Linked DNA regions of Homo sapiens. The protein of the gene in region 1 purifies or fractionates together with the protein of each later gene. This does not show direct contact. Each region holds a gene or a part of one and is shown on either strand. Other genes may lie near its edges. The genes, in order: NCAM2 and QDPR.

Evidence for each region.
Region 2: the proteins of NCAM2 (region 1) and QDPR fractionate together in Homo sapiens (co-fractionation; one large-scale study listed by BioGRID). This does not show direct contact.

The regions. Positions count from the first base shown.
Region 1 is NC_000021.9:21,001,377-21,005,202, forward strand, and holds part of NCAM2 (neural cell adhesion molecule 2 isoform 2 precursor), read left to right. Parts: intron 1-3,826. UniProt on the Homo sapiens protein: May play important roles in selective fasciculation and zone-to-zone projection of the primary olfactory axons.
Region 2 is NC_000004.12:17,487,865-17,491,690, reverse strand, and holds part of QDPR (dihydropteridine reductase), read left to right. Parts: intron 1-945; coding exon 946-1,029; intron 1,030-3,826. UniProt on the Homo sapiens protein: Catalyzes the conversion of quinonoid dihydrobiopterin into tetrahydrobiopterin.

The DNA.
Region 1 (3,826 bases):
GAATGTTATTGTGAAGTCTGAATTTAATTGTCAATGAAAGAAAATGCTGTAATTCTGTAACTTTTGCAATTATTTTTCCTTTGTGTTCAAAACTTGGTCACAGGCTTTGTAATCATAAATCTCAAGTGATAACTTCAGTTTCTGATTAACTGCATTTGCTGTTTGGATCTTTGTATATTCAAATTTCCAAACTGTTGTATGTATGGATTGCTTTCGTGAGAGTTTTTACATTTTTGAAACCACTTCCTTCTTCCTTTAAAAATTAAACAAGTATGATTAATAAGCATTTTTCCTGGATGTTCACATATGTAAGATAGAAGCACTGTTATACTAAAACCTAAAGTAAGAATAATGCTATTCATCTCTCTTGCAATGCAGTTCAAACGTACCACTTAGAACACTTACCTAAGCCAAAATCGTGAGGAAAGGAGGGGTGAATTGCCCAGTTGATCAGTTAAAGCAGTCATCTGCTTACAGTTATTCTCTTTGGTGAAGTGCTAGTAAGTCATTGTACATTACAGCAATGTACCTTCTAAAAATAGAGCACAGGTGTGTGAGTGTCTACTAGTTTGAAGATTACAGGAGAGAGCTCCACAAACTCATCTTCTGTCGGGGCTGTTACATGGCTCCAGCCTCTCTCGTATGCTTTTTCTATCTGCTGTGCTCTAATTCTTTGATATCAGCCTCTCTGTGCAAAGTTTCTATTAAATCGACTGGGTCTTCTTTTGCACTTGGGGAAGATGTAATGTAAAGGCTAATGTAAATTAATATCTTTATTGTCAGAGTAACCCAGAGGATTTCCCTCACTACTTCATATCAAAGGAGTTAGGCAGAGTATTTTCTCACTTTTAATGCAGAATCGGAGCCCATAGAGCAAGAAGGGAAGTTGGTGGGTCCCGAGAGTGTCAGATGAGTCTTTTCAATGACACAGGGAGCTAATTTTCTCCCCGAGGTACTGTCCTACTAGAGAAGCAATTAATGGAACAAAAGAACCTCATTCAGTACCAAAAGTTAGACTTCATATGATTTTGTAAATAGAATGGCCTTCTTTCAAAAATAGGACTAGTTTGCAATGAAACTGAGAAATGAGCTACAGAGATTGAGGCTAGTAACCAAGCTGAACAGTGTAATTTGTTTTTGCCTGTCCTCGTGTGGAAGCAGTGCAAATAGTAACAGGATCGACAATCTGAAGACTCTGGAACTGGTCCTCCTGCATTCTCTGTCTTTTAACATTTGGGAAATCATTGTAACTTATCTCTTTTCAGGGTCATCTCTCACAGCAATGAATTTTTGAGAGCATGAAGAAAAGTGCTCAATAACTATAGAGTGATTCTAAATTGCCCTATTTCCCCCCAAAATGAAATTAATCCCTTGAGTGTTGATATGTGCAAAATTAATTTAATAATTTGAATATACTTCTGAAGGGACTATCATTGTTTTTCAAATTTTGTTGTCCTAAATTTTAAATTTATTGTTCCCTTTATACAATCCCAATTAAACTGAGGATAGGCCTATTTAAAAGATTATAAATTTGTTTTAATTTTCCAAATTACATGATATGAGAACACTTTAAGATGCAACCAGTGCTTTTATGCTTTTATTAAATGTAAAATTCCTGCACTTTATAGAGCCAAGCTATCTCTAATTGTTCAACAAATAAAAGTGCTTCTCTCTGGTGCTCTTTTAAATATTTTAATAACTTTTAACAATTTACAGTTATAATAAGAGTACTAATCACAAATAGATATCAACATATTTCCTAGTTTTCTATGTTCACTTGTGCCACTAAGGATCCATCAAACATTACCAGACATTTTAGAAAGCTGTGAAGTAATGAAACATCTTGAATTTAAATCAAGATGTTTGAATTTAAATCATTAAGAAAGATAATGGGGAATTTTGAGAATATTTATAAGCATGGCAATCAAAACATTATAGTTTGAAGAATTTCAGGTCCATTGATCAAATCTTTCTTGGCTCCATTTGATTTATTACAACTCACAGGGATGAAGAAAATTCATTGGATTTGGAGTCAGAAGACCTAGGCTACTAAGAGTCTCTTAACCTTGAAGAAGCAACTTATGCTCTTAGAACCACTATTTGCTTATTTGAAAATTTGATATTATAAAATCTGGCCAGTTGACCTTGATGCTCGGCCATGAGGAGCAATTGTAACAATAAATATGTGTAGGCAGGCACCTTACCAAATGTCAACCCTACTATGCTAGGCTTTGTTTATATTTTTTAATAATGTGTATACAGATTAATTTGTGGCTTATAAACATTTATTTAGTTTTAAAAAATCATCATAAGCTGCTCTGTGATTAGAAAAAAATATCAAGGGGACAGAGATTACTTAAGTTATTGATAAGGGCGACTCATTCATCATTTATTCATTTATCTAACATTTACAGAATACCTGCCCTGTCCCAGACACCTCATTAGACAGCATTACTAGGAATGGTTGCGTAGATTGTGTGAAGAACAACTCCAGGGGGCGTCACTTATTGTCCTAGTGATGCAACACATATTTATTTTTACAATTTGCCAGCAGATGGCAGTAAAAGGTTTTGAGGAATGATGCGCTTTTTTTTGTATCATGAATCCTTTCTATGGACCAACATCAGGCTGGTGTTAAACACCAAGAGGCTTAGGATGGGCACATAATGAAGATAAATGACTTACTAAAGATCAAACAGAAAAGTAAAAAGGTTAGTTACTAGAGCTCCAGTCTCCAAACTCTTCAGTTCTCCTAACACCAAACTTGTTCATAGATTTTATTTAAATGAATCTAATATATCTTCAGCTCAAAGTAAAATATATTTAAATTCTGTGCCATTTTGTCAGATAATCAAATAACAAGCACTTTTTGAGGCCTTAAAATGAGAATATTATCAGCACCTTCTAACAGTACCGACCACTTGTGCGAAGTGCTTTCAGTCACCTTATAACTTATGATTACCAATGAGTCAAGAGACAATTAGCTTTGTTTTATGGATGAAGAAATTGAGGTACAGAAGAATGATCCGATTTGCCTATATCACTTATTTTTGTAGTTATCTGGAACTGGGAGTAGATTTTCCAACTTCCAGTTGCATACCTATTTTTGATATATTGTTGATTCATTTGTTTAAAAATTTGCATGTGTGTGGAAAATTCAATGTTGATAATTACAAAAACAAATAATATAAATTTAAAAAGCCAAATAAGCATGAGGGAGATATATAACTTGTTCAACAAAATATTATAAAATGACAAAATATGTCATATAATTAATTAAACACTAAGTAGTCTGAGTCCTTAGCGGTTTAGTGCCTAGAATGAGCTAAAATTGATTGTGTTTACTAACTGACAGGCTCTCTTATCATAATCCTCTATTAGCTTGTTATTATTACGATTATCGTTCCTTTATCCATGAGGGCCATGAGATACAGGGAGTTTAAATAACTAAGATTGTACTGCTTGGAAATGAGGGTTTGCATATGGGACATGTCCAAAGCCTAGCCTCTTACCAGGACATCACCTTGCCATTCAGTGAAACAGAAAGGGCTTCAATATAGTGAGAGTAAATGGAGAAGATTATTAATACAAGGAGAAAAAAAATGAGTGAACAAATTGTAAGAAGGGAGGGGCGCGTTGAGAGAATAGAAATAATCCAGTTTAATGAATCCAAGGATTCACTAAGCAGTTTGGAAAGGTGAGCCTCTGCACTCAGTTCTGGAAATAGTGGTGGAAGTGGAAGATAGAGTGACCTGGAGGCCAAGCTGGTTTGACTCTAGTGTAAATCTTTTGGAGCCATTGTTTGGGCAGGAGAGTAACATGGTTA
Region 2 (3,826 bases), on another chromosome or scaffold:
GATGGGTCTGTCTTTTTTGCCTCTTTTTTTCCTCTCCCTTTCTTTTCTCCCTTCATTTCTTCCTTTAAAATTAGACTACACATTTTACTTTTTTATATGTAGTTCTGTCTTTCAAGTCATTATATGGGGTATGTATGTGTGAGAGAGAGAGAATATGGGAAACTGTTGGAGGTGTTTCTGTTGGTCATCGGGGGACTGTCCCCCATCAGCTGTCCCAGGCAGAGGCAGCTGCTTTGGAGGGAGGCTACTCCTTCTCGCTGGAAGGCTTCCAGCACCAGCAGGCTTGCCTCTTGCCTGTGGTCCTATAAAGGGATGCTGAGACTGTAGGGACTGCACTGATTGACTTTCTGGTTCCCTTTTAGTTGTGAGGTTCTGTGATTCTGTGACATGATTCCCACAGCTGTTTTGAATGATTCGAATGATTCCTGAGGCCTTGATGTTCTTGGGAGATTCATGCATATCTGAATTCTATATTATTCTGCCAAAAATCTTAAGGTTTTGTGGAAAATAGCCACATATTTAAAATTTTAGTATTTTAGTATTCTCATATTTAAAGGCATATAACTATCTTAAATCCTTAGAAATGAGTGTGCTGCATGTTAGGGAGTGAATAAAGACACAGCAACAAAGCAGTTTAATTCAGTGAAGACTCTTTTTTAAAAAGGCAAAATGTGGCTCCTTCTGTTTTGTTCTTATCTGCCTAAGTGGTGAGCCACAGCGCACCTTATTGAATTATGCTCAGATCTGGCCTTTGCTAGCGGGGACAGCTTCCTGCTCTCTCTCTGCTTATCTTTCTGTCTGATCTTTCCATGTAAATAGCACCCTCAGTGCCAGAGGCTCTAGGTTGTCCTGCTGTATGTTTGCGTTTTCCTGGCCAAGGGGGACTGGGCACCTGTTGTTAGAAAGGAGCGACATGAATGACGTGCTTATCTGTGTCCATTGCAGGGTTACCCTGGATACCCCGATGAACAGGAAATCAATGCCTGAGGCTGACTTCAGCTCCTGGACACCCTTAGAATTCCTAGTTGAGTGAGTATTACAGACATGTCCATGACTGAGCAGCTTCCAGCCCCTATTCTCTGCCTGCTGTGGTCCAGAGGACAAGTCTGTGTTCCCTGAGATCGTCAATCCGGGTGGTCTTGGGAGGTCTCTGGGACTCTGAGGATGCATTGCACATCAGACGGAATCTCAGAGTAGCTGGACTTGGAGACAGGCAGCACAGTGGCAGAATGGGTAGTGCCGACATGAATCCTGGCTCGCTCCCTCACCACCGGCCATGCTGAGCACATTATTGACCTGCTGAGGCCTCAGTTTCCCCACCTGTATCATGAGGTCCATCATGCTTGTTAGGATTAAACGTGATAGTGTGCGGCAAGCACTCAACACAGTGTCTGGCCATAACAAGTGCTCAGTGATCCCCAGCTGCAGTTTGTGTCCTTACTGCTGTGATGAGGAGACTCCATGGGGGAGGGGGACACCACGTAGATGGCCTGGGGGCACATATCTGAATCTGTGTCAAGCCACAGACCCACAGAAAGTGCCCTTTAATTTCCGAAATCCTTTTTGCCCATTTGTGAATATGGGTGGCATTTGAACGCTCATGGGACAGAGAGCTGAATTCCTCTTTTGTGTTTGTTTAGGTATCAGTTCCTCAAGCCCCTCTAGTTAGTAAGCATGTGTTCATCGAGCACCCACTATGGGCCAGGTGCTGCCCTCGGCTCTGGGGTCACGGTGAGGACAAAGATGGGATCCCTGCCCACAGGGAGCAGGGGTGCCGAGAGGGTCAAGGTGACAGCCTGACCCAGTAGTGCCTCTGTGTAAACTGCTTTGACGACTGTTTATAAGAGATGTTTGTGAAGTTAGCAGTGTGCTTCTGGCCTGATGTCACAATCTCATTTAAATTAAATCGGGAGAAATTTGGGACTTGCGTTTTATGTTTGAAATGTGTACTTACAGAACACTTTTTATGTCCCAGTCACCATTCTAAGCACTTCATAACTCTTATTTAATGCTCATAGCAAACTCTGAGGGAGGAGCTGTCATTTTTATTTAAGGCTTAGAGACTTGGAGGGATGGCAGGGGCTAAGTCACTCGCCTAAGGTCACACAGCACAGCCGGGATCTGACACAAGTGGTGTGGCTGCAGAACCTATGGTCTTAACTGGTGTGCTGACAGTTATTTCTGTCTATGCCAGGAATCATGCTTCATGCTTGATTTGCAGGAAAAAAATTGAAGTTGTAGAGGAAATCAAGCTTTGAATTGTGTTTGTGTTTGAATTTCTTTTTAAAGGCCGACACTCCCACCACACTTGAGATACTGATCTAAGACCTACTCTAGATGGAACATCTGGGATCTTGTGTCTGAACTCGTGCTGAGCCACAGACCCACAGAGGACGGGCTGTCACAGGCCCCCTTTTGTTCTAGAGATCACATCCACCCATTTGTGGTATTTGAAAACTCTCAGAAAAGCTGGCATAAAGTTTGCTTTGAGATGTCTGTGAGCACATCCTTCCTCTACCATCCCTGGTTAGAATGGCGTTCTCACTCACCTATCCACGCTGCAGATGAGGGTGAAGAAGTAAAACCATTTAAAACATGCATCGCAGCAAACCAACATGGCACATGCATACCTGTGTAGCAAACCTGCACGCTGTGCACATGTAGCCTAGATCTTAAAGTATAAAAAAACAAAACAACAAAAAAACATGTGTAACCAACACACAAAACCCTACACAACCAAACGGCACTGGTCTCTTTCAGAGCCTTCCCTCACCAAGCCCTACCCTGTCCCCAGAGATGAGGCCATGACATGACAGTACTTTAGAGAGTTTTAGCAACGCTTTGTTTTTTGAGCCCATGTGCTCATATGAGCTTGTTCAAACCCCAGAGTAGGGGCCTGAATGACTGGACCTTTACACATCAGCGCTGGCCCAGAAGGTTACAGATTGGCACTGGGAGTCTCCCAGGAAGGAAATGCTGAGCACTTTTTAGTTAATGAAGGTCCGAAGTCTCAGCTGGTGAATTGTCAAAATGGATGATGTACTCAAATGTAAATGTTTTGTGTTAAAGAATTATCATCTACTTCTTGTTTCTTGTGAATTTCTTTTGCCCTTTTTCATTCCTGTCTTCTTAGAGGGTCTTTTTGACTGCTGCAAGTGGGGTCAGTTGCTCCTCTCCTCAGATTTGTGAAAGGCCCTGTTACTGTATTTAACATTTTATTGTAATAGTCTGTTTTTTTCTATCTCTTTTTCCATTGTTTGGTGCAGCTGTGGGTACTCTATAAATGTTTGATTAAAAAAATGCCAAATAAATGAATTGCATCTGTTTCTCTCATAAATTTATGAGAAGGTAATATAGCAAAGTATTGTGCATGTGTCTCTCTCTTTGAATGAACTAATTAAAATCTTTAAAAACAATTTTTTTTTTTTTTGAGACAGGGTCTCACTGGGTCACCCAGGCTGGAGTGCAGTGTCACGATCATGGCTTACCCTAGCCTTGATCTCCGGGGCTCAAGCAATCATCCCACCACAGCCTCCTGAGTAGCTGGGACTACAGGCATGTGCCATGCCCAGCTATTTTTTGTATTTTTTTAGAGGTAGGGTTTCACCCAGTTGCCCAGGCTGGTCTCAAAAACTCCTGGGCTCAAGTGATCCACCTGCCTCAGCCTCCCAAATTGCTGAGATTACAGGTGTGAGCCACCACGCCTGGCCAAATTAGAATCTTTTAAAATCACAAAAGAATTCCAACAATGTAGAAAAATACCAAAATGAAAGTTAAACTTATGCCAAATCCTGCCACTCAGAGATTAGAATGAGTACACCACTGA